Linked DNA regions of Homo sapiens. The protein of the gene in region 1 interacts with the protein of each later gene in a biochemical or structural test. Each region holds a gene or a part of one and is shown in the gene's direction. Other genes may lie near its edges. The genes, in order: UBE2D3, SMURF1, NEDD4 and SIAH2.

Region 1 (2,710 bases):
TGAGTTAGCTGCCTGGATTAATCAGTATGGGAAACAATCTTTTGTAAATGCAAAGCTGTTTTTTGTATATACTGTTGGGATTTGCTTCATTGTTTGACATCAAATGATGATGTAAAGTTCGAAAGAGTGAATATTTTGCCATGTTCAGTTAAAGTGCACAGTCTGTTACAGGTTGACACATTGCTTGACCTGATTTATGCAGAATTAATAAGCTATTTGGATAGTGTAGCTTTAATGTGCTGCACATGATACTGGCAGCCCTAGAGTTCATAGATGGACTTTTGGGACCCAGCAGTTTTGAAATGTGTTTATGGAGTTTAAGAAATTTATTTTCCAGGTGCAGCCCCTGTCTAACTGAAATTTCTCTTCACCTTGTACACTTGACAGCTGAAAAAAAACAACATGGGAGTAATAATGGGTCAAAATTTGCAAAATAAAGTACTGTTTTGGTGTGGGAGTTGTCATGAGGCTGTGTTGAAGTGACTTATCTATGTGGGATATTGAGTATCCATTGAAATGGATTTGTTCAGCCATTTACATTAATGAGCATTTAAATGCAACAGATATCATTTCAGGTGACTTAACATGAATGAATAAAAGTCAATGCTATTGGATTGTTTTTTGTTTGACAAGTGCTATCTGTGCCACTGATTTAACTTCTGTAGTAACAAGGGCATTACCATTCTTCACCTTTCCTAATTCTGATCCCATAGTTTTACATTTTTCCTGTTTATTTTGATTTTGTTCACTGCTTTATTTCTTAAAGTTCTAGCACATCTGTGACTCCTCCACTTCCACATTTTTGCACTGCTTACACTTACGTGCAATCTTATTCCTTGTCTGCACACACATGTGGAAAGCTAGAAATAAATGTTAAAACTTACTTTTTATAAACATTTTAATATGTAGTTTGGACATGATTTATTGACTTAAGGTTCTTCTCTAAACTGGAAGTGAAATGCATGCCTTCTGAAGATGTTCTGGCTTTGTTAATTCTGTAATCATTTCATTGGGGAAAAAACCAGCTACGCAGTTTTTCCAATGAGTGAATTTTTTCATTTTGTGTTTTGCTTAAAACGGCTCCTTCAGGGTAGATGTCATACTGCATAACTTTTTTGGATTCAAATTATGAATGAGAAATTAGTTAACATTCTGCTCCACAAGGTAAGAAAAACTGCTCTTTGGCTCTATTTTCAAAATTACTTCTGAGATGCATATAGTCTCAAAATAACAGCTTTAGTAGGCATATCACTTCTTGAAAGCCAAACATGAGTGTAAGACACTTTTATGAAACACGGTGGATCCCTAACTGGCTTTCAAATTGACCTTTATAGCCTTAGACAACCCTTAGGTATTTACGGAGATGACTTCTTTGATTGTCATAACAATTAGTGGATGTGTCCAGTTCTCTGTATCTTTGACTTGATGCTTTATACATCATTTCATTTGTTGCTTCTAAGGGAATAAGCCATAGAGGCTTCTCCAGGTTTAAAAGAACAGTAAAGTACCTGGAAAACCAACATTTTTGAATGTATGGACACTGGACATGAGATATGTACAATGAAATCTTAAAAGAATCTAAGAATTTGCCCTCTTTGCCCCACTCCACCCAGTAATTTGACATTACTAGTGCCATGTATAGGACCCAACTGAGTATTAGAATCAGTTTTGACTATGTCTTTGTATTTCCTAAATCTTTTAATGCATAAACCGAATTAGGGTCCAGTTGGCCTGTTAATGGTAAATTTACATTTTAAATGACTCAGTTTGTTTTTCCTGGGCGAGTTTGCAATGTGATAATCAGATTTTTTAAAACTGATTAATTTGCTTTCTTGTGTGGGTGTACTCACATTTTAAAGTATGAACCACAGTTAACTAGTGGTCTCAGGGGTAGTGAAACACTCACTTTTTTTTTTGTTTGTTTTTTTTTGTTTGTTGAAATGGCTTAGTTGAAGTATACTTAAGGTACTGATCATGCTGTGTTAGTAATTTGGGCGGGGAGGGGGGTAACTCAGCCATGTTTTGTGTTGGCATAACAAAACTGTTAATGATTGTTGATTACACTTTTAAGTGAATTTGTCTTTTATGAGGAACCCAGTGCAAGTCACTAAATATTGTCTAATAGTGACATCTGCATAAGACTTGTAATAGCTGAAGTTAATTGAGCTTAAAGGAATTGTTACCATTAAAGTCTGTGTTTAAAGACACTTTGGTCTTACTCGGTAATTCCAGCTAACATGAAATCCACACTTGAGCTTAATGTGTGTGAGCTCGATTTTTAATTTTATACAGTTTATGAATAAGGTGGTTCTCAAAATGTTTCTTGAGATAACAATCTCAGCATCATTTAGGAAATTCTTTGTAATATAAGTTGTCAGGCCCCATCCCAGTCCTGAGTCAAACTGGCATGGAGCCCAGTCACCTATATTAAAACACCCTCCAAGTGATTCTGATGAATAGTGAAGATTGAGAACCGTTTTCAGAAGTCTGTTCGTAGCATTCCCTTGTAACAGACTACAACCAGTAATCCTTTGACTCTACAGCTATTTTTTTATAGCTGTTTTTGGCTTTAGAGAATGTGTTTAAGTATTACGTTTCTGATACCTGACAATTTCCTAGTACTTTGAATTGTAATACAGTACATTGATTTCCACATTTACACTTGGAATATTAAAATACATTAACGTCCTACAGTTGGCTAATTTGAATA
Region 2 (7,041 bases), on another chromosome or scaffold:
GAAGGATCAGGTGATGAGTGTTGTTTCTGAAACACCTTTTCCCTTTCCCTTTCCCTTTCAGTAGATGTTATGAATGGTTTGAGAGGATTTGTGAGTGTGATCATCCTTACAATAGGATTGCGGTTTAGCGGTAATGGTACACATGCAATGCCAGTACGTGGAACCTTAGTTTACCTCGAAAGGTTTGAACTAGAAGTTTGTTGACGGTGGAATAGGTTTTAGTCTCATCTTTCTGGTTAAGGGAAGTTTGAATTCTCACTTCTGGGATGTTGAGAAGCAATCTTTCAAAATTTGAATACTTTTGTTACAGGTTTCAGAGTTTATTTCCATGTTTGTTATTTGGAAAAAAAAAAAAGACTGTTAAAAATGAGGGATATTTCAACCAGTCAATGAATAGACACAGAGCGAAATTCAGTGCAAAGATAGTGAAGATGGCCTGGCGCCGTGGCTCACGCCTGAATCCCAGCACTTTGGGAGGCTGAGGCAGATCACGAGGTCAGGAGGTTGAGACCATCCTGGCTAACACGGTGAAACCCCGTCTCTACTAGAAATACAAAAAATTAGCTGGGCGCGGTGGCTCACACCTGTAATCTCAGCACTTTGGGAGGCTGAGGTGGGGCGGATCACGAGGTCAGGAGATTGAGACCATCCTGACTAACACAGTGAAACCTCGTCTCTAGTAGAAATACAAAAAATTAGCTGGGTGTGGTGGCGGGCGCCTGTAGTCCCAGCTACTGGGTAGGCTGAGGCAGGAGAATGGCTTGAACCTGGGAGGTGGAGCTTGCAGTGAACCGAGATTGTGCCACTGCACTTCAGCCTGGGCAACAGAGTGAGACTCTGTCTCAAAAAAAAAAAAAAAAAAAAAAAGGATACTGAAGATACTACATTTAGAACTTTGGGGTCCACGATTCTATTTGGGGGTGAATAGGGCATTAGATTTACAGTTAGGAGACCTAGATTCTAGACAGATTTCTCATTAACTACATGTTACGGAACAAGTTATTTAACCTTTTTGGGTCTCAGTTTCTTTATATATCAAATGAGATTTCAGCTCCATTATAATACTCTTTGATCCTCCTTCTCACAGGATATATCAATTTAGCTACCTACTTATTTCAAATTACTGTTGGGCACTTGGGCTTAGTGGTATTCTTAATCCTGATATTCAGAAAATTGTGTTGGAGTGTAGCACATGTGTTTGATTTATGCCAAGCATTAATTTTGTGTATTGATTACATTTATGACTTTATTTCTTCATGTGGGATTGTTTTTGAAAACTGTTGGGTAATATGTTGAACTGCTTTGGCAACCTGGTCTAAACAGTAGAAGAATATTTGAGCCTTTGTATTTAAAATAATAACATTTTAACGAATGTTTTTGTGGTATTTTAGTAGGAAAATAGTTTTTAAATGGTTTCAGTAGGTTTAGGGGCATAATATATCCAGAATCAAGTGATCTTTTGTTAAAGAGCATTATCTTGTAGTCATTGGAGTTCACTGGCAAATCAAACACTTTAGAAACATTTTGATTGAAAAATCAAGCAGGATTTGCAAAAACTTTGTTCTTATCTGGTACACAAATGAATCCCAGACACATTGTTTAGGCCACTTTGGGTAAAAGAATGGAATTCAGGGTTCTACAATGCTCTTCAAGAAAATTAAATTTTATTGTAATGTCAACCAATTAGTTGAAATACAAGTGCCTAAACTTTTTTGTGCTTTTATGCATTGAAATACTCTCAGATATCCTGGTGTTTTTATATCTTTTGGAGCATGACTGCATATTGTGAAGTAAGAAAAACTCTAATTCCAAACAGAGAGGAACAAAGAGACTTTCCTTGATAGCATGTGGAAATATGAGGTTGTTTTTAAAATTGTAGCTTGTGGGATGTAAGGGTGACTTGTGTTTTGGCATTCAGATGGTGCAACTGTGAGTGAAATAGTTGTGGTAATAGCTGTTGATGATGTTGGTTGATGAATTACAGGTGTCTCAATTGATTCAAAATAGTTAAGTCTCTCAAGAAAGATTAAGAAAATTGTTAAGACTGTTGACTTTGTCAATTTGTACCAGCTAAGAACCTCACTTATGTGAGGCAGGCAAAACTTTTGTTTCAAAAACCATATAACACAGTTGCTGTGATAAGATGGAATAAGTGGTCAGTTTTTAGCTCCCTTTGCATTTACATTTTCCTTAGGGTCTGCCTCAAGTTTAGGAAGATACAGTTAAGGCAGTTCTTTGAGATGAATTATTGGAAGGTGTAGGATGGGTTAGAACAAATGCTGTTGCAAAACTTGAATTGCAATTATACTTTAAGAAGAATCACATTCTGCCAAATAGAGGTTTTTGTCATTGATTTTGTGATTTGATCACATTTGTGTTGCCTTTTAGAACAACTTTCTTTTTTCAAATCCATTTTTTTTTCCTTTTAATCTTCTTGGCCCACCCAACTGACTTTAGACATGAAATCTTTCATATGCTTTATTTCTATCTCCATTTTTACAGTAGTTGTGATTTATCAAACTAGGATTTTTAACTTCAAGTCCATCTGTCAGAGTTTAAAACCTCTAGTCTTGCAGTTACAAAAGTCCTTTCTGAATGTTGGGTTTTTCTTTCTCTTCCACACATTTTCATTTTCTCGGTTCAGTCACAATGTCAGGTTCTAGTGTGGAAAATTGGGTGAAAGAAAGGTTTTGGAGGCTGTGTTATTTATGAAATATTTCCTCATGGATTAAGAAAGAAAAAAAGACAAAACGACAAATAGTGTTTCAATATCACCTCAGTGATCCAGTTAACTAGACTGGCTGTTTTGTACAACATCGTGGGCACTGGTTAACAGTTAAAATAGCTGAATTGTGCGTTTTATTCAGTGGTTCAAAAAAGCCTCAAATGGATGAAATAACTTGATATCTTCGCCATGCTCTGATTTGCTGGGTAAGACAGCTAACTTTTAGGATGCTTATTTGGATCAATTTTTTATAATTTCAAAACCATTTTAGAGGCTAATTTTTTTTTAAACAAGGAATATACAATTTTTTTTTTTTGTCACTGAACAAGTTTTAAATTACTGGTTTGTTATTTTGTAAGTGAATTTGTAAGTGAAAGCCTCCAACTTAAATTAGCTTCTTGTCCAGGGAACTCATTCTGACTGACTAAAGTCCCTAAGGCCTTTCTAGTTAAAGGAAAGCCATGGAGCTATGTTTAAAAAACAAAAGCACATAGCTATGGGGCTTGGGCATATCTTCTTTTTAAAATGTCACTATTACTGTTTTGTCTCCAGATGCAATTTAATCCATTTAGATATTTAAACCAAGTGGAATGTTGTTTCCACATTTCTGGACTAATGGGGGAAAAAACACCCTCATATTGTTTTAAAACAAGGCTTAAATAATGTATAATCAGCGCGTCTGGTGACGCGCCCCACTCTGTAATTCCAGCTGTGTTCACCTCCACTGCAGCTGAAAGGAATTCTAATTGGCTGAGGAATGTCGGCAACATCGTTTATCACTGAGCAGGAACCTATCCTCCTGGCTGCTGGGTGATGCATTTCAGATGTTTTAAGCTCCGGAGCCCAACTTGCAGCTTGCTTTCAGGAGTCTGGAGGAGCATGTCACGAAGCTGCAGATTGTAGATGGCAGCCTGCGTTCTTTGTATGTTGGGCATCCGCTGAGTTCTCTAAAGGGCATGATGCTTTCCTGTGGTTCCAACACTGGACTGGGGATCAGAAGGTCTGAATTTGATTTCTAATTCACACAAGTACCACAATGAAGAAAGGGGAGGGGGTGCATAGGATTATGATCTTTTCATGATTCAGTTTTCCTATCTTTAATGCCAGAGATCTGTCTTTTTAGAGCACAAAAGGACCTGCTAGAGATGGATTAAATATTTTAATGAGTAGTTATGAATTATTTATAGAGTAGCACAGTATTAATACAGTCATAGATTCCTGTTATGTCTTATTCCTAAATAGCCAGGTAAATAATAAAGCTAATAACGTACTTTGACATTGAAGAAAATCTATAGAACCGGTTAATAAACATGGAAAAATAATACAATGAATTGATAAATTATGTATTCAGAAATTCCTTAGAGAAATAGTGTTAGAAGCCAAAACCAGTATTATCTTTATTTTTATTTTATGTTTTTCCCAGGCCAGGTAATGTGCCATCGGACAGTATCATGTTTATTTTTTGTTTTGTTTGGAGATGGGGTCTCACTCTGTTACCCAGACTGGGGTGCAGTGGCACCATAACAGCTCACTGCAGCCTCGACTTCTTGGGCTCCAGTGATCCTCCCACCTCAGCCTCCCGAGTAGCTGAGACCACAGGCATGTGCCACCACGGCTGGCTAATCATTGTAGTTTTGGTAGAGATGGGGTTTCGCCCTGTTGCCCGGCTGGTCTTGAATTCCTGAGCTCAAGCAATCCACCTGCCTCAGCCTCCCAAAGTACGTGGATTACAGGCATGAGCCACTGCACCTAGCCAGCATCATCTTTAAATGATGAAATTGTGGAAACATTCCCATTAAAATCAGGAACAATGCAGGGATGTACACTGTCAAAATAGTTATTATTAATAACTAGAGAAAGACATCAGAAAGCAGGAAACAAAATTGCTGTTATTTATAGACGTTATGATATATCTTTAAAAGCCCAAAAGATCAGCTGAAAAACACTTATAAACAATAAAAAACTTTAGCTGGATGGAAAATTTCTCCATGGCAAAAAATAGGATAAAATCAACATGCAAAGACAAACTAGGAACAACAATCTGTAATGGATACGAAAATGAAAGTCTGGTTTTCCTAATATATAAAGAGCCTTCAAAATCAATTAGGAAAAGGCCAGTACCTAATAGGCAAAGAATATGGACAATTCACAGAAAAGAAAATGGAAATGGATTTGAAACATGTGAAAAGACAACCCTATTTTCTCTCTTCTTCTTTCCTTTTCTTCTTTAGAGATGGGGTCTTGCTCTGTCGCCCAGGCTAGGCTAGAGTACACTGGCGTGATCATAGCTCACTGCAGCCTGGAACTCCTGGGCTCAAGCGATCATCAGCTTCCTGAGTAGCTGGGACTGCAAGTATATGCCGCTGTGCCCTGTTCTCTCTTATGCCCATTTTCTTTCTCTAAAAATTTATTTTTAATTGATAATCAGCCCTATTCATACTAAACAAACTACAAATTAAAAGTAAGAATGAAACAATTTTTCATCTAGAAGAGTGGCAGATCAAAGAGATTGAAAATCTTCTGTGATGAGACAAGAGTGTGGAAAAACAGGTCTTTTACTCTAGTGGTTGAGAATATAAATTGATAGAGTAGGTACCAAGAGCAGTTTGGCACTGTCTATCAGATCATAAATGTTTATGCTCTTTGATCTAGCAATTCTGCATGTAGGACTTTTTTCTTATGGGTGTTTTCACACATTTATGTAAAGTCCGGTGTGTAAAATCATTGCAGCATTGTTTGAAATTATAAAAGACTGAAATCAATGTGAATGTGTATCAGCAGGGACTAGTTAAGTAAATTATCGTGTATTCCCAATGATGTGTAGCTGTAACATAATAAGATAGTGTTTTATATTCTGATATGGAACATTCTCCAAGATATATTATTGAGTGGGGGGAAAAAGCATGATTCAAAACAGAGGCTAGTGTGTGTACTATTTGAATAATAAAACAAGAAATAAAAATAAAGGGGGAAATCTATAGATAGGTCTGTATAGAATACGACTGAAAGATTTTGACTGTTGATTTCCTTTGAAGAGATTCTCCTGTTCTCCTCTTCAGAGGAAAGAGAGAGGAGAGAGGGAGAGAGGAGAGAAAAGAGAGAAGAGAGGGTGACTTTTCATTATATGCCTTTTGTAATATTTAATCTCCTCCCTTTTCTCACCCCCTTGAGCATGTATTGCTTTTCAACAATTAAAAAGATTAAAAAGCTCTTAAATAGATAAGAATTTCTTAGAGCAACTAGTAAGTACACTAACTGCCAATTGTTTTGAAATGTAGACATTCTGAAAAATCAAAATGATTGTGCCGAATGTATTTTAAAAGGCTAAAATATTATAGCATTTCAAAGTACATACTCATATTTATAAGGACTTCCTCACTAGGAAGATTCCTGGGTTCTACAGAATAAAATTCTTGGCTACTTGTCTTATAGCTCTGAACAGACTTATTTTCCCAGAGAGTATGTTTATTATGTAATAGCGAGTTGCCTGACCCCCCAAAAAGCTTGTTCTATCATATTAAAATAAGGCAAAATGATTACTTTCAGATTAAGAAATTTGGACTCTAGATCTTGTTTATATAGTGAGTTCTTTAAAAAACTGAGGTCTTGGTTCTGAATAATAGTGGTTTACATAATTTATTTAGAATGTCATTTGGGGTTATCTCTGACCTATTTTTATAAAATAATCTCATCTTTAAAATAGGAGTAAAATGCTCATTTGCATAAGCCAGTAATAATAATTTAGTATTTTTCCAAGTATTTATAGTCAATGTGTTTGCCATGAACTTTTTTAAGGGATTGTTTTTAATTTTAGAAGTGCTTTAAAAAGCAATATTGGCATCTGGCTCTGTAGAAGTAGAAAACATGGTAACTTCAATGTGATATATTTGCTTTTTTCCCCTCTTAGGTCTTTGGGGTAAAAAAAATCCAAAGTTTACTCAATTTTATTTCTACATATATTACCTACAAATTATAGAGGTGAGACCTGCTTGCTGCCTGTTCATACCTGTCAGTGATACTAATACCTCCCGTCTGTACAGTGTTTCATAGTTTCCAAAGGGTTCTCGCGTGGTTCCTCACTTGAGCCTGGTGAGGAAATACCTGTAAACATGGGTAGAAGTTTTAGTCCCTTGTAAAACTCTGGTATAATATCAAAACCAGGAAATTGTTCACAGATTCTAAGGATTGGGGAAAAGAGAAAAATAAACAAATTGCTCAGGAGTAGAATTTGCAAAAAAAAACGAAACAAAACCAAAAAACTCTGGAAATAAGGCACGTTTAGCCTTACAGAGCGAGACCCTGTCTCAAAAAAAAAA
Region 3 (7,041 bases), on another chromosome or scaffold:
GAAATGAGGTGGAGCATATTGTTTTGTTTCTTTGGCTTTTTCTGCTGATAAGCACAGTCATGTAAACATCTAAATTTTCTGCGAAAGTATTCCAGTATCTGGTAACTTGCTTTGTACATATTGATAGGAAGTCACCGAAGTAGTGGTGGTAGTGGCTTCCAGACGTCAAGATTGATTATATTCTTGAAGTCATCAGTTCTGGTGATGACTCCTGATCATCTACCTTTCTGACTGGGAGAGGTAGTAGCTTCCTGGATGGGTCAGTTCTGCCATGTTTCTGATCTTCTAGAACTGCAGTCCCCAACTGTTTTGGCACCAGGGACCGGTTTCATGGAAGATAGTTTTTCCATGGACCGGGGATGCGGTCCAGTGGTTTCAGGATGATTCAAGCACATTACATGTATGGTGCACTCTACTTCTATTATGATTACATTGTGATATGTAATGAAGTAATTATACAGCTCACCGTAATGTAGAATTAGTGGGAGCCCTGAGCTTGTTTTCCTGCAACTAGATGGTCCCAAGTGTGGGTGACGGTAATGGGAGACAGGGAGACAGTGACAAATCATCAGGCATTAGATTCTTATAAGGGGTACACAACCTAGATCGCTTGCATGGACAGTTCACAATAGGGTTCATGCTCTTATGAGAATCTAATGCCGCTGCTGATCTGACAGGCAGCAGAGCTCCGGAGGTAATGTGATCGGTGAGGAGTGGCTGTAAATACAGATGAAGCTTTGCTCACTGGCCTGCCACTCACCTCCTGCTGTGTGGCTGGTTCCTAAGGTTGGGGACCCCTGCTCTAGAAGTCCAGCCTAGCACCTACTCTTCCAGCTCTTCCAAAAATTTTGTAAGCATCTAATCCCCTGTATTAGCTTCTTTCTTCTTAAAGCATCTAGAATGATTTCTGTTTCCTATAAGAAAGGCTGACTGAAGCAAGGAAAAGAAGGAAGGAAATAAAGAGGAAAGAGTTCAGAGTCTCCGCTATCGGTATGGAGAGTGCAGTTTGCACATACAGAATAATAGATGCCCCTGGTGGCAGCAGCCACAACAGTGCATAAGTAGCAGGGTAAGAAGGGCATATTCTGATACTTCTGGACCCACTAAGGCTGAGCAGAAACTGACCCTTACTCAGTCTGGGAACAAACTTCCCAAACCTTTATGTACTACACACAAAGGAGGAGAAGCATAGGTTAAGCAGCAGCTGTATTAGTAATTTCTCCCAATCTTTCATGTATTGTTTTTGCCATTAGTGCTTTTTTGCAACTCTTTAATTCCAGGATCATTGTAAAGTATTTTTCATGGAGCAGGGACTAAAGAAGTGAATAAATATAGTGTATTTTTAAAATAATTTATTTTTAAATTATGTATTTACTTTTGAGACGGAGTCTTGCTCTGTCACACAGGCTGGAGTGCAATGGCGTGATCTCAGCTCACTGCACCCTCTGCCTACCAGGTTCCAGCGATTTTCCTGCATCACCCTCCAGGGTAGCTGGGATTATAGGCACGCACCACCACGCCCAGCTAATTTTTGTATTTTTGGTAGAGATGGGGTTTTACCATGTTGGCCAGGCTGGTCTCGAACTCCTGACCTCAGATGATCCGCCTGCCTCGGCCTTCCAAAGTGCTGGGATTATAGGCGTGAGGCACCGCGCCCGTCCTATTTTAAAATTATTTTAAACCATCAGAAAAGTTGAAAGTACAACACAAAGAGCTCCAGTATTCTTCTCATACAGATTCTGCAACTGTTAACCTTTTCACTGCAATTGTTCCATCACCTTTTTTTGCCATTTTCATTAATCTTTTTCTGAACCACTTGAGAGCAAGCTGCAGACACAATGCCCCATCATCTTTAAATACTCTAGTGTGTATTTTTCTAAAACAAGAATACTTTCCTGCATAACAACCATACCCCCTTCCAAGCTAGGAAATGGACACTGATACAACAATGCCATTCAATCCACAGATACCATCCAAATTTTGATAAATGTTACTAATAATTTCTCTTTTTCCTTTTCTGGTCTAAGAACCTATCTGGGAACATATATTGCTTTTACGTGGCATGTCTTTGCAGTCTCTTCTAATCTGTAACATTTCCTCAGTTTTTCTTTTTTTTTTTTTTTTTTTAATTTTTTTTTTTATTATACTCTAAGTTTTAGTGTACATGTGCACATTGCGCAGGTTAGTTACATATGTATACATGTGCCATGCTGGTGTGCTGCACCCACTAACGTGTCATCTAGCATTAGGTATATCTCCCAATGCTATCCCTCCCCCCTCCCCCGACCCCACCACAGTCCCCAGAGTGTGATATTCCCCTTCCTGTGTCCAAGTGATCTCATTGTTCAATTCCCACCTATGAGTGAGAATATGCGGTGTTTGGTTTTTTGTTCTTGCGATAGTTTACTGAGAATGATGGTTTCCAATTTCATCCATGTCCCTACAAAGGACATGAACTCATCATTTTTTATGGCTGCATAGTATTCCATGGTGTATATGTGCCACATTTTCTTAATCCAGTCTATCATTGTTGGACATTTGGGTTGGTTCCAAGTCTTTGCTATTGTGAATAGTGCCGCAATAAACATACGTGTGCAATGACTTTCTTCACAGAATTGGAAAAAACTACTTTAAAGTTCATATGGAACCAAAAAAGAGCCCGCATCGCCAAGTCAATCCTAAGCCAAAAGAACAAAGCTGGAGGCATCACACTACCTGACTTCAAACTATACTACAAGGCTACAGTAACCAAAACAGCATGGTACTGGTACCAAAACAGAGATATAGATCAATGGAACAGAACAGAGCCCTCAGAAATAATGCCACATATCTACAACTATCTGATCTTTGACAAACCTGAGAAAAACAAGCAATGGGGAAAGGATTCCCTATTTAATAAATGGTGCTGGGAAAACTGGCTAGCCATATGTAGAAAGCTGAAACTGGATCCCTTCCTTACACCTTATACAAAAATCAATTCAAGATGGATTAAAGATTTAAACGTTAGACCTAAAACCATAAAAACCCTAGAAGAAAACCTAGGCATTACCATTCAGGACATAGGCGTGGGCAAGGACTTCATGTCCAAAACACCAAAAGCAATGGCAACAAAAGCCAAAATTGACAAATGGGATCTAATTAAACTAAAGAGCTTCTGCACAGCAAAAGAAACTACCATCAGAGTGAACAGGCAACCTACAACATGGGAGAAAATTTTCGCAACCTACTCATCTGACAAAGGGCTAATATCCAGAATCTACAATGAACTCAAACAAATTTACAAGAAAAAAACAAACAACCCCATCAAAAAGTGGGCGAAGGACATGAACAGACACTTCTCAAAAGAAGACATTTATGCAGCCAAAAAACACATGAAGAAATGCTCATCATCACTGGCCATCAGAGAAATGCAAATCAAAACCACTATGAGATATCATCTCACACCAGTTAGAATGGCAATCATTAAAAAGTCAGGAAACAACAGGTGCTGGAGAGGATGTGGAGAAATAGGAACACTTTTACACTGTTGGTGGGACTGTAAACTAGTTCAACCATTGTGGAAGTCAGTGTGGCGATTCCTCAGGGATCTAGAACTAGAAATACCATTTGACCCAGCCATCCCATTACTGGGTATATACCCAAAGGACTATAAATCATGCTGCTATAAAGACACATGCACAGTTTTTCTTATCCTAGACAGTTTTAAGAAGGACAGGCCTTGGCCGGGCGCGGTGGCTCACGCCTGTAATCCCAGCACTTTGGGAGGCCGAGACGGGTGGATCACGAGGTCGGGAGATTGAGACTATCCTGGCTAACATGGTGAAACCCCATCTCCACTAAAAATACAAAAAAAAAAAATTAGCCGGGTGTGGTGGTGGGTGCCTGTAGTCCCAGCTACTCGGGAGGCTGAGGCCGGAGAATGGCGTGAACCTGGGAGGCAGAGCTTGCAATGAGTCAAGATCATGCCACTGCACTCCAGCCTCGGCGACGGAGCGAGACTCCGTCTCACAAAAAAAAAAAAAAAAAAAAAAAAAGCAAGGACAGGCCTTACATCCTACGATGTTTCTCATTTTGGGTCTGTTTGGGTCTGTTTAGTGTTTCTTGATGACCATGTTCAGGTCACGCTCTCTTGGCAGGAATCATAGAAATGATGCTGTGTTCTTCGCATGCATCACACCAGGGGACACATGATGCTGACTTGTCCCAACACTGTCAGTGACCTTAATCACTTGGTCACCTTGGTGTCTGCCAGGTTTCTTCTCTGTAATGTCACCTTTTTTCTCTTTATAATTGATAGTATTTTCAGGGGACATATCGTAAGATTATGCCAATATCCTATTTCTCGTCAAGTCTTCATCCTCAGTTTTAGCATCCATTGATGAATTCTATCTGAACCAAACACCACTATTTTGTTTTATTTCCATCTCTGTTAGTTGGCATTCTATGTAAGAAGAGCTTTCCTTTTCCTGTCATTTATTTATATCAGCATAGACTTGTAAAATCCCACTTTATTCAGCAGGTTGTAATCAGTTACTGTCATTAAATATTTTATTGCTCATACTGTCCCAGTTTGTCCAGTGGGAGCCCTTTCAAGGAGGTTCCTAGGTCTTCGTAACAAGTCCCCATCATTCTTTGAACACTTTCTGGCAGAAGTTGTTCCAGGCTTCTCTTGTATTTTGCTTGGCTCAGCTATCTACAATCAGCCATTTTCCCTAGAAGCACTGGTCCTATTTAGTATAAAATGGTTTTTACATGCTACAATTTGGGTACTTGGTGTGCTCATTGTTACTGGGATATACTCTTGGACCATCTCTGAACAGTTAAGCGTGTGTGTGTGTGTGTGTGTGTGTGTGTATGTGTACTCTACACACATATATAAGTATACACAAAGATCTATAGCTATTTCTATATCAATCTGTAAATACATAAATTTAAAAATCATGAATTCATACTGATTTTTTCCAATTCAAACCTAATACCTGAGTTCCTTTATAGCCATAAGTACCTTTTCTAACAGTGAAAAAATTTGACTTTTATTATCCTTAATATATTTGTTCATTGACTTATGTGTTCAGTGTAACTAACTTCCTGACCACGCAGACATCTCCTCTGCCACTTCAGCTCTTCACATCCTTGGATGCCAGTGGGAATATTGCTATTCTCTATGCAGCATCCCTGTGCAACGCCGTCCTCCCCTCCTCAGTACCCTTGCCAGTGGGCACCCTTCTGATGCATCTCTGTATGGTATCTCCCTCCTCCCCTCAGTGCCCCGTGCTGGCGAGCATGCCAACCATGCACCTCTGTGAAATTCACCCTCACTCCACAGACATTTTCTGTAGTGGCCTGTGATTGACTGCTCTGCGCCAGGAACAGAAAAGGAGAAGGAACTATAATTTCTTTTATAGGTAATTAGGAATTCATATATCACATAGGAGTAGAATCTTTGAGCTGGAAGAGACCTTGTAAATAAATCATTTAGGGTGAGCAGGGGTATAGAAAATGGGATTCTTTTGTGTTGGAATTCTGGCCCTGTCACTTACTTGGTGAATCTTGCATAATTAAACATCAGTCAGAGCAGGATATTTAAGTCTGCTGATTCTCCCATCCCCTTGCTGTCTCAGAAATATTCTATAGCATTTGGAGACATGCAGGAACCAGTTGAACACAATTGCTTCTCAATCTATCATGGTTATCTACTCCAGAGCTGAATCTTTAAGTCAGATAGCTGATTTGAATTGCTGAACCCATTGTTCTGCTGAATTCTGTGGCAATTGATGTTACTTCTTCTTTAGGACTTCTATTTCTTCTGGCCTCCTTGCCAATAGTATCAAAGTTTAAGAGGATAAATGAATGGGGAGGGGATAGGAGAAGTCTGGAGATAAATGCAGGGAGAAAGGCACAGCACAAACAAAAAGCATTTTGATAAGGCTTTTCTGAAAGTTGAGTAAATATGTCTGTAGCCCATTATTATAACTCATGGCTGGACTCAAATGTCTGGCTTCAACTGATGCGAGACATGTTGGGGCAATGAAGAGAGTAATATGAACAAACAATCATGGCCGTCAATAAAGATGCTTTAGTGAAAGTATTCTCCTTTGGGAAAAAGAGTCAACCTAAATAAATAGCAACTGCCTTTAACTGAATACCCACTCTGTGCCAGGCACCAGGTTAGATTTTTTCATACTTTAGCTGTAATCATCACAACATTATTGCAGAAGTAGGAAGTATTACCCCCATTTTAGAGATAAGGAATATGAGATTCTGATTTGTTCAAGAACCTTCTCCCAGTAGGGAGAAGTGTTATATTCATAACAAACACTTGGTCCTTCCACTTTCCTGCTACTAATACGCAAATAAAATAATTTAACAGAAGAGACTTTTTCTCAGGAATATGATGAATGTGAATGGAATGTGTGCAAAATTAACTTGTAATTGTTATGCTCTCATTTCCACATCTTCTGTCTTTTCTTGATAAAGCTTTTAGGTGGACCTCTGAAGTACTTGATTTCTGTATTTGCTTAACAAATATTTGATGAACACTATGTATCAGGCACGTGGGTCAGGGCATGAGGTATAATGATATAGAATATACTTTACCGATTTTATAGCCAAGAGGGAGAGAGAAACATTAAATAAATTATCACACATCAATATTTTATAAGTGTTATTAAGGAAAACAGTGTAAGATGAAAGTATTTATAACAGGCTGGGCGCAGTGGCTCACACCTGTAATCCCAGCACTTTCGGAGGCTGAGATGGGTGGATCACTTGAGGTCAGGAGTTCGAGACCAGCCTGGCCAACATGGTGAAACCCTGTCTCTACCAAAAATACAAAAATTAGCCAGGCATGGTAGCATATACCTGTAGTCTCAGGTACTTGAGAGGCTGAGGCAGGAAAATTGTTTGAATCGGGAGGTGGGGGTTGCAGTGAACCGAGACTGCGCCACTGCACTCCAGTCTGGGCAACAGAAGAACACTCTGTCTCAAAAAAAAAAAAAAAAGTATATCTAAAAATTAATTAATTTTATATGGTGTGGAGAA
Region 4 (7,069 bases), on another chromosome or scaffold:
TAAAGATCTACCCTATAAAAGACATTGTGAGAATTAAGAGAATTAAAATATGTAAAGTACTTGGAACACTCCCTGGTACAGGGTGAGCACTAATTAGCTAAGTGTGGATACAAAAATAATGCAAATACATAGAACTGCTCTTAGTACACAGTGCTAAGTCCATGATGGTTGTTCAAAAAAATGCTTGAATTAGGAGTACTTGAGTATAGGAGTTTGAGGCCAGCCTCGGCAACACAGTGAGACCTCTTCTCTACAAAAACTAAAAAACTAGCAGGGCGTGATGGCACGTGCCTGTAGTCCCAGCTACTCAGGAGGATCCTTTGAGCCTGGGAGGTTGAGGCTGCAGTCAGCCATGATCCAGCCACTGCATTAAGCCTAGGTGACAGAGTGAGACCCTGTCTCAAAAAAAAAAAAAAAGATTTGAATTAAGAGACCTACAATTATTCAAAAGAAGTTTGAGCATTTGGAAATTACCCCAGAAACAGATGAAGTTAAAAGTTCCTACTATAATTACCAGGGGGCCTTACATCACCTCCAGATTTCCCACAAGCTTCCCCTGATGAGGAATTTCCATGCAGCAAGCTCCAATGCATACCTGAGTCATCTCTAAAAAGCCAACCACAATTTGCTCTGCAAATGCACATTTGCCTGATGGCAGAAGTTGCCTGATTTGCAAAACCACACAATTTGTAAGTTACAGAAAAAAGGGCAAGAGCTTGTCTGCCTAGCTGGAGCATTTCTCACTGTGCTCAGCAGTTTAGTGAAATTAGGAACTCACCTGTGAGGTGTTTTTTTTAAGACTCACCCTGCTATTTTAAGGAAAGAAAAGGCTACTCAGTACACCCCTAGTCTTTCAAGCTTAGCATAGAGCAGATGGGTTAAGGAGAGGTGTCCTGCTTGACATATGCAATCTGGGACTCAGTAGGTGGGCGAATGAGACCAACCTCTCATACAGTAGATGTGGTAAATGAGTCATGAATCAGGAGATAACAAAAGGCTGGACCCTGCTCCCCCAGACCACAAAGTCACTCACTAAACAGGCCAAGAAGCAGCAGCGACACTCCAAAGGGTAAATAAACCTCCCAACAACTCAACTCAGCACACATTTTGAGTACACGCTAAATTCGACCTCTGAGCGGACTGCCCGCTGGAAGAGGAGGCTCTAGCTCATAGTGCCCGGTATGCAAAGGTCACCTTTCTTTGTTTCAAAAGTCACCAAGGAAGGAGGAAGAAGAAAGGCGACTGGGAAGACCAGCCTGGTCATTGATGTGGCTCACATAGCAGACCTATCCACTCTCCCCCTGCCTACCTTCAGCAACTGCCCAGAGTTTTTTTGTTTTGCTTTTGTATTTTAATTACCCTGGTTGACTTAATCAGGTGTGCAATGATGTGAAGGAGGAAGAAAGAAGAAATTTCTCTATACCAGGGGAGGCATCTGCCAGGGTAAGAGTGGATGGGTTCGCTGTATTTTTAGAAAAATAAACCAAATTCTCTCTGCAGAGAATTGCTTTTCCTGTTATTTCTTTCAACACCTCCCAAACCAAATTGTTTTCTGAATGACCAGGGCCTATCTAGCTGGAACACTTAAAGCTCGTGTCAATGGGGCAAGGGTGAGGACTCCAGTCTCCTAATGAGAGCTAGTAAGAAGCCGTGGGGATGGAGGTCATCACACAGAGAGGCTAGAAGTGGAAGGAAAGAAAATGTGTTCCATTAATAAATTCCAAATGCTTTGATTTTAAATTAAGAATGAAAAATATTACATTTCCTCCAATAACAGTAAAACAGTAGGTGATTTTTGTGTTATCACTTATATTTTGTGTCATAAAAAGGTGAAAATGAAATAAATAGAACATGATTTAATTTTTCTCTCTAGACCAGCTAAGGAAAGAGTTTATGTAAAGTTTGCCCACAAAATTTAGTGCTTTATTATAGGCTGAACAACTGTTTTCTGACTCTGTTGAGTGTGCTAATCTTAACTGTTTAACAAGACTGTAAGTAGGAATCAGGCATAATTTAGAGGCATACAGACTAGTAGTTAAGAAGGGCTCCTAGCGTGTTCCCACATTCTCAGCTGTGTGATCTTGAGCAAAGTAACCTATGTCTCGGTTTCCTCAACTGTAAAATGGAGATAACAGTAGTATTCATCACAGAGAGTTATGATAAATACTTAAAACTATCCATGCCCAACATACAGTGGGCACTCAATTAACATTAGTTATTATTTTATGCTCCCTACCTATCCAAAAACTCAGGTTCAGCCATGTTACTAAAGAGCTTCCAAAAACCTACAAAACCTAGTGTTGTTGTGTGTTCTTAAAAAAACAAACAAAACCCTACAGTGGTTTACCCCTATCATTGAGGTAAATGTCTTATTAAGCCAGTTGAGGCTCCCCTTGTGCTAACGCCACACCCCTACACTCCCGTTATATCCCCTCCAAGTCCCAATGCAATCCCAGAATACATGCTTTCACTCTGTGCTTTTTAGCTCCTGCTATAATGCCTGCCCACCCCGTGGTATCTGAAATCCTTCTTCTCCCACGAGTGCTTGGTTATTGGGCCTTGCTCTCTTACTAGAATGTAAACTGCATGAGAACCATTCTCAGAGCTCCAACAGTAGCTGACACATGATAAATGCTCAGGAAACATTTACTGAACGATTGAATACACCTATTAAGTTTTTTCAAGATTTATACCAAATTCCATCAATTCCATGCATGTATTCTTTCTACAGAAGCCCTTTGTAAGATTAAACTTTATTTCTTCTGGGCTCTTACGCCATATTTCTTGGACAAATTGTATTCATTCATTTTAAACATCCACTAATATTTTTAAAAGATAAGAGCTAATGTTTAAACAGTGCTTATGATGGGCGAGGTTGTTTTAAAAGCTTGAAATATATTAAACTCATTTACTCCTCACTGCCCCACCTATAAGATAGGTATTTTTTTTTCCACTTTTACAGTTGGAGGGAACCATTTTTCACTCAGTCCTAACAGTTGGTCCTTACCTCTGTGTCTCCTATAAATTTCCGATTTCTACCTAAGGTAACCCTTTCCCCAATTCCGGAATCGTTGGCTCAAGCAAAGTCTGCAGAAAAACAATTTTAACTCGGAGCACACAGTTACATTTGGACATGCGGTTCACCCCGGGCAACCGTGCCCTCTAGCGCTTCTGCTGGGCGCGCAGGGTGGCCCTACGCCTCGCAACAAAGACTCGGACTTCGGCCGGCTCTCTACCAAGCGGACGCAGCGCCTTACACTGGAGTTTCACCCACTGTCTTCAGAGACCTCACGACCCAACCTACGTTTCTGACATTTCTAGATGATCTCGAACTCTTAGCCAACGCTGCCCATGAGCTCCCTCCTCGGCCTGCTATACGAGCCAGGGGCGCTCAATTCAACGAAGCTTCCTCCTGGTCCGCTGGGAAAGGAATAAAGGGAGCTTACATCCTCCCCACCGCCCCCCTCTTTACTCAACCCCACCGTTAACTGTACAAAACTAGGTCCTGTGCCCGCTGCAGACCCAACTCGAGCCCCTCGCCCTGCTCCCACCCAATGCTTCTCGTCCTGACTCCGAACACAGAACGCGGGTGGCCGCTTCGCCCTCTTCTCCTGCGTGCTGGTGACTCAGCCCTGAGAAGAGAAACCTCTCGGTTTTTTCCGACTAGTGCAGGGGCGCCCGCGCCCCGCCCCTGCCCGCCCGCGTCCGGTCCCACCCACCGTCCACGCTCCCGCCCCGCCTGAAGTTGCCTTTCTCGTTTGAGCTGAGGGACGCGTCAGCCAGGCACCCCGGGGTGTGGCCAGAGGACTTCGGCGACGCTTCCCCGAGAGTAGCCCCCCTCCTCAACCCAGAAAAGACAACCCCGCGGGGCTGCAGCGAGCCAGGCATGCTCACTGGCGCAGGCCCGGCCCGCAGCCCGAGCAGGAAGCGCCGGCGCTAGGCGGCCCCCTGCGCTGCCAGCTGGAGCCGGGCGGAGCCAGCGCCCCGGCGCAGGGTGGCTCTGCCAGTCCCCGCGCGCCTGGGCGGCCGCACACGTGTCCAGGCGTCACGTCCGCGCGCGCCCCCGGGGCTTGCGTCAGCGGCTGTTCCAGAAGCGGGTGGGCCAGGGCTCTGCGCACCGCTGGGGTTCGGGGCCCGGGACGCCGCCGGGAGGAGGGCACCGCGCGGGGTCCGACGCGGAGGCGTGCTCGGAACGCCGGGGGCTGCGGAGTGCATCAGCGCGGTCCAGCCCTCCGCCTGCCGGGCGCCGAGCGTCTCCGCCGCCCGGACCTGGGCTGGGCGCCGTGGCGTTGCCTCGGAGCTCGCTGCCCGCGGGGCGCGCACCGCCTTGACCCGGGCGGCCCCGCGGCAGGCAGGCGCCCGCAGTTCCATGGTTGGTTCGGAGCGCGATGAGCCGCCCGTCCTCCACCGGCCCCAGCGCTAATAAACCCTGCAGCAAGCAGCCGCCGCCGCAGCCCCAGCACACTCCGTCCCCGGCTGCGCCCCCGGCCGCCGCCACCATCTCGGCTGCGGGCCCCGGCTCGTCCGCGGTGCCCGCCGCGGCGGCGGTGATCTCGGGCCCCGGCGGCGGCGGCGGGGCCGGCCCGGTGTCCCCGCAGCACCACGAGCTGACCTCGCTCTTCGAGTGTCCGGTCTGCTTTGACTATGTCCTGCCTCCTATTCTGCAGTGCCAGGCCGGGCACCTGGTGTGTAACCAATGCCGCCAGAAGTTGAGCTGCTGCCCGACGTGCAGGGGCGCCCTGACGCCCAGCATCAGGAACCTGGCTATGGAGAAGGTGGCCTCGGCAGTCCTGTTTCCCTGTAAGGTAAGCCCAGGGACAGCCCACGTACCTCCGCCGGTGACCTCAGGGACTCCGGTATCCGCCAGCCCACTCGCAGGCCCGGAGAGGCGGGCGGCATCTCTCATTTAAAAAAAAAAAAGAAAAAATGTTTACACTTCGTCCACCCTCCCTCAAGCCCACTTTGGGTGTAGGTCTGGGTTGACATTTACCGAGTAATAATTGTTAATAGACAATTAACAGATTAATTGGCATTTGCTGATCGTTAGAACATCGTAGCTCACCCGGCCCAATGCCCGCGTCCTCTGCAGACGTGTATTCGGGTACTCTCGGTAGGGCTGGGCCGCACCAGTAAAACTTGGACCGAGAAACTGACTGTGTGGGGATTGAGGAGGGAGGAAACGGGCGAGCTAAACGCCCCCTTTACCAGCGCTGGGCTCGGCTGAATTGATAATTGGAGTCCTGCACCCCGCGCCTACCGTCTGCGCACCCCTGACACGTGGGAGCTCTCGGGATTGTAGCTAAAAAAAGGGCGCCTACAGCCTGTTTTCCTCTAGCTAGAAGAAAACCCTGCAAGCCACGCCTTTTTCTCTCCTAGCCTTCCAAAGACTGGGAAGGACTGAGGAGTTGTGGCTGCGTTGTTGTACTAAGTGGGGTGAAAACAGTCAATCAAGAAATTAACAAGGGCACTCAAGAGCTGTTGTTACAGTTGTTTAAAGCTCATCACTTCATTTTTTATTTAATGTAAAAAGTTTTCAATGCCCTTGCGAAAAATGCAAGCCACCAAGACAAGAAGTAAAATGAAAGACCAAGATCTCTCCCCTCCTTTCCCACCATTGTTAGGTTTAGTGTGTATCTTTTTAAACTATATATACATACACCCTCGCAGCTAAATATAGAATCATAGATGTCAGTGTATGTCAGGGAGGTTTTTTAATACCCACACATAGATGTAAGTTTTTCTCCAAAAATGGCATCTGCAACTTGCTGTTCTTAAATTCATATTATCACACATATTTCTCTATGCCTGAAACCTAGTCGACTTCATTGTATTTTAAATGGCTGCATAGTATTGCATTGTGTGGTCATATTATAACATTTGTTTACCTGCAGCTATTACGTGGAAACCTTCAGGAGCAGTTTCACAGACATACTTGTCTACGTTATAACCTAGAAGTATACTGTAAAGTCATTTTCTGAAATTAGAAGTGGAGATAATGTCACTAATACTTTCCAGTTTTTTTGTAAAAGTAACTTGCGCTGCCTCTTGGGCCATTTAAGCTGTCTTGCATTTCTCCTTGGTGCTGCTTATTTTATAGGACAAGAGCTCATTTTTAAATTAAAAATAATCCACCAGAGAATTCAGGCTTGGGACTCAGGTCAGTAAAATGAGTGCTTTAATTTGGTCTGCTGCCCTGCTGCAAATCAGGTTTAAAATAGCATATTTAAATAAGAGTTTGAATCGGTGTTTGGACTAGGGTGTTTCAGGCAACCTTAATAAATTGCTGTTAACCCCTCCTCATATAGTGCTTACTAATTCACTCAGCCCAGTTTCTCAAAATTTAGATAAAGTATTTGCATAGTTGTCTTAGGGTTGTGAAAAAGGTGACAACCTAGTGGTTGGAAAAGGTTTGGTGGTAGTTAACATAGAGTGGCTATTTGATGCTTGAGATATATTGCAGGGGTGGGGGATGCCCCATAGGATTTCTGGGGAGCCATTTTCTCACCCCTTTACTTTCCCTTAAACGCGCAGCGGCTAACAAAAGAAATGGCTTTTAGGTGAGTTTTAGTTCACAAATGAGCATTTGATATTAGTCAGTAATCCATAATTTGTTTTTAAAATGTAACCATAATAGAATTGTGTTGTTCCCAAGAGAAAGGGAAGGAAACAGTTATGCTATATGGAGCATGAAGTTTCACTTTCAGGATCTAGAACTCTGGTTCCTATGAAAGCATACGTTCTTTCCTAACGTGAAACAGGCTACTGAAATCAACCTTGAAGAGTAGTTCTGGGAATCAGGGGTTCTCAGCCTTTCTGTACATGTCAGTGGTTTTCTGAGTCTCTATTCTATAAGAATGCAGTGGGGTAAAGCTATTACTTTGCAAGCTGAAATTTAAAAGGGCCAATTATTCCCCTGCAGACCAAGAACCAAGCTTAGGATGTGATCTTGGGGATGCTTTTGTGTGTGCATGTGTGTGAGTTGTATAAAGCTGGGGTGTGTGTCCCTCACCTTTGGTTGATCAATAATCCAAACTATTGGCAGGGCAGCTCAGCCAGTTAGTCTGGATAA

Evidence for each region.
Region 2: the proteins of UBE2D3 (region 1) and SMURF1 form a complex in vitro, tested with the Homo sapiens proteins (15 studies listed by BioGRID, with this or other methods).
Region 3: the proteins of UBE2D3 (region 1) and NEDD4 form a complex in vitro, tested with the Homo sapiens proteins (17 studies listed by BioGRID and IntAct, with this or other methods).
Region 4: the proteins of UBE2D3 (region 1) and SIAH2 form a complex in vitro, tested with the Homo sapiens proteins (5 studies listed by BioGRID).

The regions. Positions count from the first base shown.
Region 1 is NC_000004.12:102,793,880-102,796,589, reverse strand, and holds the end of UBE2D3 (ubiquitin-conjugating enzyme E2 D3), read left to right. Parts: 3' UTR 1-2,207; downstream 2,208-2,710. UniProt on the Homo sapiens protein: Accepts ubiquitin from the E1 complex and catalyzes its covalent attachment to other proteins. In vitro catalyzes 'Lys-11'-, as well as 'Lys-48'-linked polyubiquitination.
Region 2 is NC_000007.14:99,134,108-99,141,148, reverse strand, and holds part of SMURF1 (E3 ubiquitin-protein ligase SMURF1), read left to right. Parts: intron 1-7,041. UniProt on the Homo sapiens protein: E3 ubiquitin-protein ligase that acts as a negative regulator of BMP signaling pathway. Mediates ubiquitination and degradation of SMAD1 and SMAD5, 2 receptor-regulated SMADs specific for the BMP pathway.
Region 3 is NC_000015.10:55,983,574-55,990,614, reverse strand, and holds part of NEDD4 (E3 ubiquitin-protein ligase NEDD4), read left to right. Parts: intron 1-7,041. UniProt on the Homo sapiens protein: E3 ubiquitin-protein ligase which accepts ubiquitin from an E2 ubiquitin-conjugating enzyme in the form of a thioester and then directly transfers the ubiquitin to targeted substrates. Specifically ubiquitinates 'Lys-63' in target proteins.
Region 4 is NC_000003.12:150,760,169-150,767,237, reverse strand, and holds the start of SIAH2 (E3 ubiquitin-protein ligase SIAH2), read left to right. Parts: upstream 1-4,068; 5' UTR 4,069-4,388; coding exon 4,389-4,805; intron 4,806-4,830; exon of another isoform or gene 4,831-4,901; intron 4,902-5,062; exon of another isoform or gene 5,063-5,301; intron 5,302-7,069. UniProt on the Homo sapiens protein: E3 ubiquitin-protein ligase that mediates ubiquitination and subsequent proteasomal degradation of target proteins.